Linked DNA regions of Homo sapiens: regions 1, 3 and 4 are each linked to region 2. The links come from fine-mapping of genetic effects on gene expression. A gene starts in region 2. Each other region holds a variant in brackets. All regions are shown on one strand. Distances are between the middles of the regions. Region 1 overlaps EVL (Enah/Vasp-like). Region 2 holds the start of DEGS2 (delta 4-desaturase, sphingolipid 2). Region 3 overlaps EVL (Enah/Vasp-like). Region 4 overlaps LOC124903379 (a long non-coding RNA gene).

Region 1 (2,680 bases), 21 kb before region 2:
CTCAGTAGCAGGTGCCGGGCCGAGGGGCCTGGCCGCCACACCACACGTGGGAGCAAGGCTGTGCTGGGATGTCCGGGGAGGTCGTGCTTGCTCGCCCTGTGGCTCTAGTCACTGGGTCCCTTACCAGCAGGCTCACATTCCAGAGAGACCTGGCACAGTGAAGGGCTCAGAACCAGATCACAGGTCAGGGTCAACCTGACCTAGGCCATGGGGGACTGAGAACAAGGTGCCAGGTTTTGGCTTAACTCAATCAGACCTTCCTGCCACGGGGCTCTGCACCCTTGGCATGGGTGAGGGCTTCCTGTTGGGGTGTTTAGGGGATTGGGGTGGCTACTGAGTCCCTTCACCTGTGAGGTTCTTCATCCATGAAATGAACTGACAGAGGCTGGCCGGAAGCCCTGGGAGCGGAGCAACTCGGTGGAGAAGCCTGTGTCCTCGATTCTGTCCAGGTGAGCTGCCCCAGGAAGGCCTGAGCAGCGAGGCTGGTGGGGCAGAGGCGGGCGCTGGCGCCGATTCACATGTCTGTTTCATTCCATTGCCGTAGAACCCCGTCTGTGGCAAAGAGCCCCGAAGCTAAGAGCCCCCTTCAGTCGCAGCCTCACTCTAGGTACCGAACAACCCTCCTGCTCACATGTCCCCCAGGGTTTGGGGCTCCTCTGTCCCCCGTCCCGTGACTAACACCCTTGCACGCTGTCTCACGTCCTGGCATTTAACAACTTGCTCTGCGAAGGTGGTCTGTTCTTTCAGACCCAGGACCTCGGGGTCCTGTCAGTCAGCTGCTCCGTCTTTTCCCTCTGAGAGAGAGACCAAGGGCAAGGAGGGCAGTGACCTGTCCACAGAGGTAGTGCAGGGGGGGGCCAACATGGAGTCCCAGCTCTGGACTCACTACGTGTGACAGTGGGCAAGTTAGGGGACCTCTCCAAGCCTCTGTTTTCCCCCCACAAAGTGAGGTCTGTTAACCCCTGCTGCACAGGGTGGTGGTGGGGACAGCTGTGAGCAACAGCTGGACATGGGGTGTGGTCACTAGCCAGGGCTGCACCCTACAGTTCAACCAGTCCTAGCACTGGCGCTGAGCCCTACCCCTTTCCTCCAGCCCAGAGTCCTTCCTCTGCGGCCGGCACACAGAATCAGTTTCCCCACAGACATACTGACCATATTTCCCAAGCCAAAAGCTGGCATGACAACATGATAGAATATTTGGAACTGAGATTGCCCAAAAAGGCAGAGGCAGCCAGCCACATAGTATCTGGAGGTACATGTGGCCTGAATTGGAAGGCCTCTAGAACCTGCGTCAAGAATGTCTCCATCGCCACCACAAATTGAAGGGAAACCACCCTTATCACAGAGCAGGAGGCATTGAAACTGGCCTTGCAGAGCTGAACAGGTGGTGAGAGCAGAGCAGTGCAGGTGGACAGAGATGAGGAAGTCTTAGCAGTCAGCTGG[G/A]GTTTGTCCAAGGCTTGTGGTCAGCCAGGCCGTGTGCTGGGGACAGTCCCTGCCTGCAAAGAGCACCGTGTGAACAAGGCCACTGTGGTCCTGAGGGGTGCTCTGGACAGGGTGCAGGGCCACATGGTGGAAGGGACAGGGTGCTTTGCGGAGTGGGGTGGGGCAAGCCTCTGTCGGGAGCTGGCATTTTCGTTGACCCGGACGAGGAGGAGTCTGCTCTGCGGAGATCATGGGGACAGCCTCCCAAGCTGAAGGAAGGGTAAGTGCCAGGGCCCTGAGCCTGCAGCCACCCGCCAAGCTCCCCCGCACCTCCACCTGGAAGCAGACAGGCCATGGGGCAGGGGAACGGGAAGGGTGAGGAAGAGGGTGTGGGGGAGCGCGGAGTTAGAAGTTTGCATTGTGTTCATGCGCAGGGCCCAGTCATGGAACTTGAGGCACAGGGTGCCATGGTGGAGGCTGGGAAGGGGAAGGCAACCAGAGTGGGCAAAACGAGGGCCCTGGAGCAGACACGGCAGCAAGGGGAGCCTGCAGCGCTCCCAGCGGACTCCGCCACGTCCTGCTGGTGGAGCAAAGGCGGGCTGCCATGTTGTGAGTGGCCAAGGGTCGCTCACTGGGCAGGAACATTGTCAAGGCCATTCATGCTTGGAATAGGGTCTCTCTTCAGCTCTGAGGCAAATCTGTTCTCTAATTTTCAGATGACTTCAAGGGGAACGTGTACCACCACCCCTCTGGTGCGTCACATTGCTTAGGAAGCCTGCTGTGTTTATCACTGGGTGGCTGTCAGGGCTGAGATGGAGAGGGCCAGGGCCTGGCGAGGTGGAGCAGTCGGCCCAGGTGTCCCAGCAATTGTTGCTGGAACAGGGTCTGGAACCCACAGGAGAGGCCTGAAGGACCCAGGGCCCTCTGGCTGGATGCGTTTGCCTATCAGGACCCAGAATTACTTACAGACCTGTTTAGGGCTAGGCTTGGCCTCTTTCTTGAGCTCATCTGGAGGGGTGTGGCAACACTCATTCTTCATCCTTATTCTCCCTGGCTGTGGGCAACACTGGTCCTCAGTGTCACCAGATGGTCCTCCTCTGTGCCCATGACCCCTCAGCAGCCAAGGCTGGCCCTGCCAGATAAATGTGTGTGCCCATGATCACACCCAGGGGCACAGGCCACATACGTTTCCCTGAAACCTTGGGCTCCAGCCTCCATCCCGTCCATGTGGGAGGGAACTTGGGTCCCAGCAGTGTGT
Region 2 (2,680 bases):
CTGGGAGGCGGGGGTCGCAGTGAGCCGAGATCGCGAGACTCTGTCTCTAAATAAATAAATTAATTAAATTAAATAAAACGCCCGATTAAAATGTGAAACCTCCATCAAATAAGTGCAAATTAAAGCCACAGTGAAATGGTATTGTTTCCCCAATCTGACTGAAGATTACAAAGTGTGGCAACGCGCGGTGCTGACTTAGGCAGGGCGGGAGGGGCGGGCCTGTCTCAGCCTGTGGCGATTTGGTGGCATCTGGCAAAAGCCACTCTCCAGACGCAGGCCCTTTAACCCCGTAAGCCCGGGCCAAGGACGACTCACCGGGGCCACCTTGCTTGTGGGTGGGATGGGGCCTCTGGCATGAACGAGAGTGACTCCGAGTGGGTAAAGATGCCCTCCTCGCAGAGGACACGAAGCAACAAGGAAAACAGCCACCACGTAATAAGCGACATGCCAGAATAGAAGGATTCTTTAGTACAATCTTTGCTTTTTTCAAAGAAAACACGCGCGCCTCTCATTCGCGTTTGCTCCCTTCCCGGCGCTCATCCGCCCTGAACTCCAGCCTGGGGCGCCCGTGGCCGCGAGACCCAGGGGCTCTGAGCGCAGCAGGCGCCCAGTGACTGCGGGTGGAGGCCCCGCGTCGCGCAAGCTGCCTCCGCGCCAGGGAGCGCGTGCGCCTCGTAGCGCGTCCCGGGGCCGCCCCTGCGCCCTCGCGTCCCAGCATCCCAGAGCCCCGGCCCTGGCCCCGGGAGTGGCTCGCGAGGAACAGCTGGGACGCGCTCCCTGGCGCTCGGACCCGTACTGGGGTCCTCGGAATCCTCAGGTCCCAGGGAGTTTCAGACCCGGCCAGGGTGGGGGACCCTCGGGGAGCCGGCCGGGGACCCCAGGGAGGGGAGCGGCAATGGCGGAACGCCCACTGGAATTTGGGCCAGAGCTGGAGCGGCCCGTCTGGGCTCGACCCCACGACGCGACTCCAGACGGGCCAACGGGGCGGTCCCCACCGGGGTGGGCCCCGCGCGGCGCTCACCCAGTATCTCCTTGCGCCGCTGCGTGTGCGGCTGGTCGGTGTAGACCCACTCGAAGTCGCTGCGGCTCGCGCTGTTGCCCATGGTGGGGCGGGAGGCGCCGTTCGGAGCGCGGCCGGCTCGGCTCTGCTGCACCTGTCGCGGCGGCCGCGGCGCGGAACCAGCTCTGATTAGGGCGGGGGCGGGGTCCCGGCGGGGCGGGGCCAGGTGCGCCAGGCTTGGGGCGGGGCACCTCTGGCTGGGCGGGGCGGCCGGGCCCCGGCGCTCTCCAGACCCCGGCGGGTAGCTGGCGCTTTGGGAACCTCAGTTGCCTCGGTTGGAAATGGGGCTCCCCGGCAGGACCGAGGTGGCCGCGTGCCATCTGCGCGAGTCCCTGGGTCCCTCGATGCGCGGGGGCGACTGCTGCCACCGCGGCCTCCCACCGGCTCTGCGCGCCCCGCCCACCCGCGGGCAGCCGTCGGGTTTTTACCCCGGCCCGTTCTCTCCGCAGCCCCGACCCGCTCGCGGGCACGCCCCTGTGGCTCGCGCCGCCCCTGCCCCAAGGAGGAGCGGCTGGCAGGATAGGGGGACTGCGGAGGATCGGCGTGGAATGGATGCGACGGTGCCAGTAAACAGGCGCCGAGGAAAGGTTGGTGCAGCAATCCTCCCTTCCTCCACCCGGCCCTTTCACCAATAATGCAAAGGGGAGATAATGCGTCTGCAGCAACCTCACAGGGATGAGTCAGACCCACTCCTGCCTTCAGGGAACTTGAGTTCTGGATGGGGACACAGGTACAGAAGTGGCTGTTATGATTCAGGGTGATACGTGCCATGACACAGGTAGGCCCTGAAGCAGCTAGGATCCAATAGAAGGAACTTTTGCATTGGGCCTTGAGGGGTGGGTAGGAGTTCAACAGCTAGAAAAGGGAAAGGCATTGGTGCTAGGGGGAACAGCAGATGCAAACGCTTGGAAACAAGGCAGAACCTGAATGTTCTCAAATGGAAAGTCTAGTTTTGGGGAGGTAAGGGCACAGGGCCCCTCATCTTCACCCTCTCAGTGATGCCTCTGTTCCTTCTCCCACTCCCTTGGAGTTTTGGAGGGTGGACCTGCTGTGCCTGTGGGCCAGAGCCTGGCCTCGGCTGGCAGTTGCCTGGGAGCTGACTGACACATCAGCCAGCGCTGCCACAGGCTCGCACATAGTGAGGGCGTGCTTCTGTGCGTCCCATGGAAGTCCATGGCCCGGGGTTTGGTACACTTGGCAGGCCTTCCTTAGCTCAGGGCCAAAGGCAGTCCTGAGTGAGCCAGGAAGGAAGGCATGGGTGTCCTGCAGCCGCCAGCCACCATCCCCTGAATTAGCCATGGGAAAGGTGGACACAGAGGCCAGATTTTCCATCAGCAGGGGGACCCACATGCCACCATGGCCATCACCCCTTGCCACACCCAGGAGGCCTCCCGGCCCAGCTTGCACCCTTGGGAGAAGACTCATTGCTCCCAGGGCAGCCTGCTCTGTTCCCAGCCAGAAGGGTCCTCAGAAGTCATCCCACCAGCCATCACTTTACAGATCAGGAGACTGAGGCCCAGAGATGAGGAGCGCCTTGCCTGAGGCACAGAGGAATTAACAGCAAGGCTGGGGCATGACTTTGGCCCCTGACCTTTGAATTAAAAAGCTTCCAAAATCAGA
Region 3 (2,680 bases), 33 kb before region 2:
TGCTGCTGGGAGCTTTTCAGACCTTAATGCTAAAAGGGGCTTTTCCGTAATTTTTTTTTTTTTTTGAGATGGAGTCTTGCTCTGTCACCCGGGCTGGAGTGTAGTGACGCAATCTTGGCTAACTGCAACCTCCACTTCCTGGGTTCAAGAGATTCTTCTGCCTCAGCCCCTTGAGTAGCTGGGATTACAGGCGCGCGCCACCACACCCAGCTCATTTTTGTATTTTTAGTAGAGATGGGGTTTCACCATGTTGGTCAGGCTGGTCTCAAACTCCTGGCCTCGTCATCCGCCCGCCTCACCCTCCCAAAGTGCTGTGATTACAGGCGTGAGCCACCACGCCCAGCCATTCCATAATGTTTTAGTTAAGGCATACACCCTACAAGAACCCCATGAAATAGATGTTTCTGGCACTCCCACCAAGCCCAGAGCTGCCTTCAGAACAATCCTTAGCCCTGTGTTTCCACAGCACATGTTCAGTTTGCACCACACGAGCTGAGCTCTTGATGCTGTCTGTGGCCTGGATGATTTCTTAAAGTGCCTCCCACTCCAGAACTCGATCCCTGGATTCTGGAGATGTATCTGGGCCTCAGTGTCCTCACTCAGCTTGCCTTTAAGAGCACCCTGAGGCCACCCTGCCATAAGGCACTGGGATGTGAGTTCCCACTGCTGTGCACGTAGCAGTGTGCCACGGTGCACCAAATGGCCCTCTAGACGAAGGCGGGCCTATGACCGCTCAGTGGTAAAGAAAATGAGGAGTGTGGCCTTTGTGTCCATTTCTGCTGGCAACCAAAACACACCTGAGAACTGTCCCAGGAAGCTTGGCCAGGTCCACTAAGAACAGGCGTTCCTGAGGCTGGGTCTGTTGAGGCCACAGGCTCCCAAAAGCCAGGTGCGCCCATCTAGCCCAGGGAAGAGCTTGGTCACTCTGGGGAGTGGAATCACACTGGCCTTCCATAAGGAGCTCTGTGTTCAGTGTGCCTGAGACTCAGGAGACAGCCGGTGCTCCCACTTGCGGGAGCTGGACCCAGTCACATCCCCCTCCTCTGTTAAGTGGAGGCAGCCGTGGCACACAGTGGCGCTTGTGGAGCGCTGGCGAAACCTGACTCTGAAGCC[G/A]GGGCCGGCGGGTACAGCACAGGCACAGAGTGTGGTGGTCTCCAGAGTGGAGGAGTCAGACTGCCCTGCTGTGATTACTTTCCAGACAAGTGATGGAGCAGCACCAGCAGCAGCGTCAGGAATCTCTAGAAAGAAGAACCTCGGCCACAGGTGAGAGCCCTCCTCCCCTAGGGCCGACTCCCATGCTGCTGCCAGGTGGCAGCCCCTCCACGTAGATGAGGCCCAGGGACACACGGGGCGCTCTGTGAGCAGCTATGGGGAGCCTAGGTCTCAAAGTGCAACCACCACTTCAGATGGTGAGGGTAGCAAGAGAGCAGAGCAGAGGCTTGGGGAGTCTGCTCAGCTGGGTCTGGCCACTACCTGCCAACCTTCTCCGGAGTGGACATTCAGCAAGCACCTCCTGTGTCTCAGGCACCGTGCTAAGGGCTGGGGACACAACTATGACTGCAGATGCAGTTCCTGCCCTCAGGAAGCCCGCTGTCCACTCAAGGAGACAGTGAACCCACCCTTGTCATGTCACGTAGTGAACACTGTGGCAAGTGACGTGCAGGTGCTGAAGGCCTACCTTGGGTCAGGAAGACTTCCCACAGGAGGCGCTGCCACGCGTCTGTCTTGGACGTTCGGTGGAGCTTAGCACGTTAAAGGAGAAGGACGAGGGTTTTCCAGAAATTGTCATGTTCACTGATAGGCAAAGGACTGGATAATTTACCAAGTGCTTTCATGTCCTTTGTCTTGTTTAATTTTCTCAAACACCCTATGAAGTGAGCAGGTGACTATTATCCTGTTGACTGATGAGAAACCCGAGCCCCCACTGGTTACAGGAACGCTCTGCTCGTGAGATGCTGGCTGACCCCATCACCCCCACCTAGCTGCTGCTGGCCTCCTGCTCCCCGGCCAGTCTGCATTTCTGATGCAGGTCTGACACTGTCATCATGTCGTCCCTTCCCCATCACTCTTGGAACAGCCTGTGCCTGCCCTCTCTCCCTCTAGTGCCTCGCAAGCACTTCCCATCCTTTTCCTCCTTCCTCACACTTGCCTCCCCCCTTCACCTAACTGAACCCCTGCTCTCCGGTCGTGTCCCAGCTCCACAGTCACTTCCGTGAGGACGTCATGGAGGACGTCCGTCTTCCATGAACTTCTGGCCAGGCTGGAGCCCCTCTTTGTATGCCAACATGGCGCCGTGTGCCTGCCCTTGGTAACACTTGTCAGCTTGCCACAGTCCTCCATCTGCGTTTACCTCTGCGATTCGTTGACTGTTCCTCATAGGCTGTGAGCACCCTGAGCAGAGAGCTTGTGGCTGGTTTTCCTCAGCACCATACCCAGCACCTAGCACAGTGCCTGGCACAAAACAGGCTTAGGCAGCACTGGCGGAAGGGGCTGGATGGATGATGCTGGAGCCCAGCACTCGGCATTGCGCCCTGACCCATGCCCCCAGTCGGCCCTGGGACCCACAGGACCTGCCACGGCCCCCAACGACCCAAGTGTCAGTCACAGTTGGATCTTGGTGACCAACTTCTGCCTAGGGGGTGCTAGGTGCTTAGAAGGAGCAGAGAAGAGAAGAGGCACA
Region 4 (2,680 bases), 120 kb before region 2:
AAGTCTTCAGCAGTGTTTGCTAAATGTACAAATAAAATATAGAATATTAGAACCAAAAAAGTTCCTTAGGTATCCCCTTGTTCAGATCTCTGTGAGTCCCTCTTTTGGACATGGTATTTACCTTTCGCTTCCCCAGAGCAGACATGGCCAGTTCCCTTGAGGTATTTCCAGTGGGTAAGGGAAAGAGAAGTAATATTTCCGAAACAGCCACTATGTCCCAGGCAATATATAGTTATTTTCTTTCATTCATTCAGAGCTAGACATTAGGGATACAAATGGGATAGCTTCCATTTATTTATTCAACTATTGAGGGCCGAGAACTGTATTAACAATATGTCATTTCATTAACACCACTTTCAGCAAGTTAGAAATTACAGAGGAGGAAACACACCTAGACAGGGTCAGAGCTTGGTTGTGATCACCAGGTTAGTTAGCAACAGGACTGGAACTAGCTCTGTGGATTCCCATTCTGCTGCTTTTCAGTGAGGGGAAAGTGTAGACTAAGGAAAGCTGAAATCATCCTGGGTAGGATACTGTAGACGGAGAGCTGCAGGCAGCAGAAGGAAGTGCCTGGCAACCAGCTCTGTAGATTTAATAAAGCACCACGTTGGCCATGTCTATAGAATTAAGAGGAAAAGAAGGAAATTAAAATCTGAAGAAGTTGTGGCAAGTGGACAGAATTGCTAAGCATGGACAAAGCAAATAAATCCACAGCAGGTTTTAAACAAACTGATCTTATCATGCTCTTGTCTGGACAAACTTCCCAGCTCTGTTGGGCCTTCAGAATATTTAATTCTGACTTGCCATATCAAAGAGCAGAAGCGATGGACTCAGATGGCGGACAAGGTTGCCCACCACTGCCTCCTCTCGGTTTTGAAGCCCACGTGGTCTGGACAGCCAGGGCTCTTAGTCCCAAATCAGGATACTGTCTTAACAAGCGGAACAAGTCTGGGTCCCATTTGCATTTCACTTGTCCCTTTGTGCCATTAAACTTCTTTATTTTTAATAAGCTAGTTTTATTAATTGAAAAATTATTAACTGCTCATAATAAAAAGCTTAAACAGAATAATGCTAGAACTTCACTGATATCCCTCAACTCTTGGCAGAGGCCACAGCTTGGGTGGGTAGCTGTCAGAGATGGTCTTAGGTACCACTTAGTACCCTGTGTGCTGTGCCCTGGGGTGTGTGTGTGTGTGTGTGTGTGTGTGTGTGTGTTGCTGTAAAGAAAGAATATAACTTTGTACTCACAAAGATCAGAAACTAGGGATACAGTTTGGGTTATTGGTTACTT[T/C]TCCAACTTTTTTAGTTCTCTTGAATATATCCTGCCTCTCCCAAAAGCAGATGAATTCCTCAAGAGTGGGGACTGTGTTTCCTTCTGCAGCCATGACCCATAGGGCCCAGGACTGGCTTCTCAGATTTCAGAAAATAGAGTCATTAACCAAGTCACCAAATAAGTATAAGAACTGAAGGGAAAAAGGACAGGTAAGAACATTTGAGCTTTTCAAAGTTAAACCTTGGGGACAGAGACCCTGTGGGAGACAAATATTTTAAAAATAGGATTCCTCATATGAATACCCCATGATTTCAGCTTTTCTCACTTTATGAAGTTCAGTTATTTTCTAGTTAAAACAATCCTTGTTAGAGGCCATTTATTTATTTATTTGAGACGGAGTTGCACTCTTGTTCCCCATGCTGGAGTGCAGTGGCACAATTTTGGCTCACTGCAACTTCCGCCTCCCAGATTCAAGTGATTCTCCTGCCTCAGCCTCCCAAGTAGCTGGGATTACAAGCATGCACCACCACACCTGGCTAATTTTTGTATTTTTGGTAGAGACAGGGTTTTGCCATGTCGGTCAGGCTGGTCTCAAAGTCCTGATCTCAAGTGATCCACCCACCTCAGCCTCCCAAAGTGCTGGGATTACAGGCGTGAGCCACTGCACCCAGTTGTTAGAAGCTTTTAAAGCAAAACTTTAAGTCACATGAATAATTTGGACACATAATATGGGTAAAATAACTAGAGTTACTGAAGTGTTGAATAAACCACATTTAAGAAATTTCTAAATAAACAACAACAGTGAAGTTCTCTGTACAGTAGGGGATGGTAAGTAGTTTCCTAGCCTGGAATTGGTCTATATCTTCACCCACTCTGTTCTCTCTGGCTTGTGTGTCTGGGTGGTGTGGCTGACCCCATGAGCTGCTTTTTGTTTTTAATAGAGACAGGGTCTCGCTCTGTTACCGAGGTTGGAATGCAGTGACGCGATCATGGGTGTCACGACCTCCTGGGTTCAAGTGATCCTCTCACCTCAGCCTCCTGAGAGGCTGGGACCACAAGTGCACACCACCACACTGGGCTAATTTTTTAACTTTTTTGCAGAGATGGAGTCTTGCTGTGTTGCCCAGGCTGATCTCAAACTCCCGGGCTCAAGGGATCCTCCTGCCTTGACTTCTCAAAGTGCTGGGCCTACAGGCATGAGCCACTGTGCCCAGCCCCCATGAGCTGTTGATCTTTGTGGCTTCTGTCCCTTTGTGTTTGCTTGTGGCACTTGGACAGCCTTAGCAAACGGCTCAATGCACAGTGATCCTGTTACTAGCACTTTGCTGCCCTTACTACAGATTTTTACCAGCTCCTTTTGTTCCGCTTTTTTCTCTCTCCTCCTTTCTTTATGCATTTTTAACATTA

The links. PIP is the estimated chance that this variant, and not a neighbour inherited with it, causes the effect. A credible set is the group of variants that fine-mapping cannot tell apart.
Region 1: its variant is the best candidate, but not a certain one, in a credible set for the expression of DEGS2 in lung (TOPMed, PIP 0.73).
Region 3: its variant is the best candidate, but not a certain one, in a credible set for the expression of DEGS2 in sun-exposed skin (GTEx, PIP 0.59).
Region 4: its variant is the best candidate, but not a certain one, in a credible set for the expression of DEGS2 in whole blood (INTERVAL, PIP 0.56).

Annotation. Positions count from the first base shown.
Region 1 is chr14:100,137,196-100,139,875 of GRCh38, forward strand. It overlaps EVL (Enah/Vasp-like), which reads left to right. Exons shown (of 14, transcript NM_016337.3): 10 at 383-449; 11 at 545-607. Among named protein-coding and RNA genes, the nearest start is that of DEGS2, 21 kb to the right of the region's middle. RefSeq lists enhancers at 1,159-1,864, 1,193-1,342, 1,865-2,569. The variant G/A (reference allele first, on the strand shown) is at 1,444.
Region 2 is chr14:100,158,485-100,161,164 of GRCh38, forward strand. DEGS2 (delta 4-desaturase, sphingolipid 2) reads right to left here and starts at 1,161. Exons shown (of 3, transcript NM_206918.3): 1 at 1,022-1,161. The coding sequence starts at 1,103. LOC124903380 (a long non-coding RNA gene) reads left to right here and starts at 1,553. Exons shown (of 2, transcript XR_007064330.1): 1 at 1,553-1,647. RefSeq lists silencers at 948-1,007, 1,108-1,507.
Region 3 is chr14:100,125,509-100,128,188 of GRCh38, forward strand. EVL (Enah/Vasp-like) reads left to right here. Exons shown (of 14, transcript NM_016337.3): 5 at 1,199-1,263. Among named protein-coding and RNA genes, the nearest start is that of MIR342, 17 kb to the left of the region's middle. The variant G/A (reference allele first, on the strand shown) is at 1,114.
Region 4 is chr14:100,037,591-100,040,270 of GRCh38, forward strand. LOC124903379 (a long non-coding RNA gene) reads right to left here. Exons shown (of 2, transcript XR_007064329.1): 2 at 1-2,680. It also overlaps a transcript of EVL not described here. Among named protein-coding and RNA genes, the nearest start is that of EVL, 26 kb to the right of the region's middle. The variant T/C (reference allele first, on the strand shown) is at 1,292.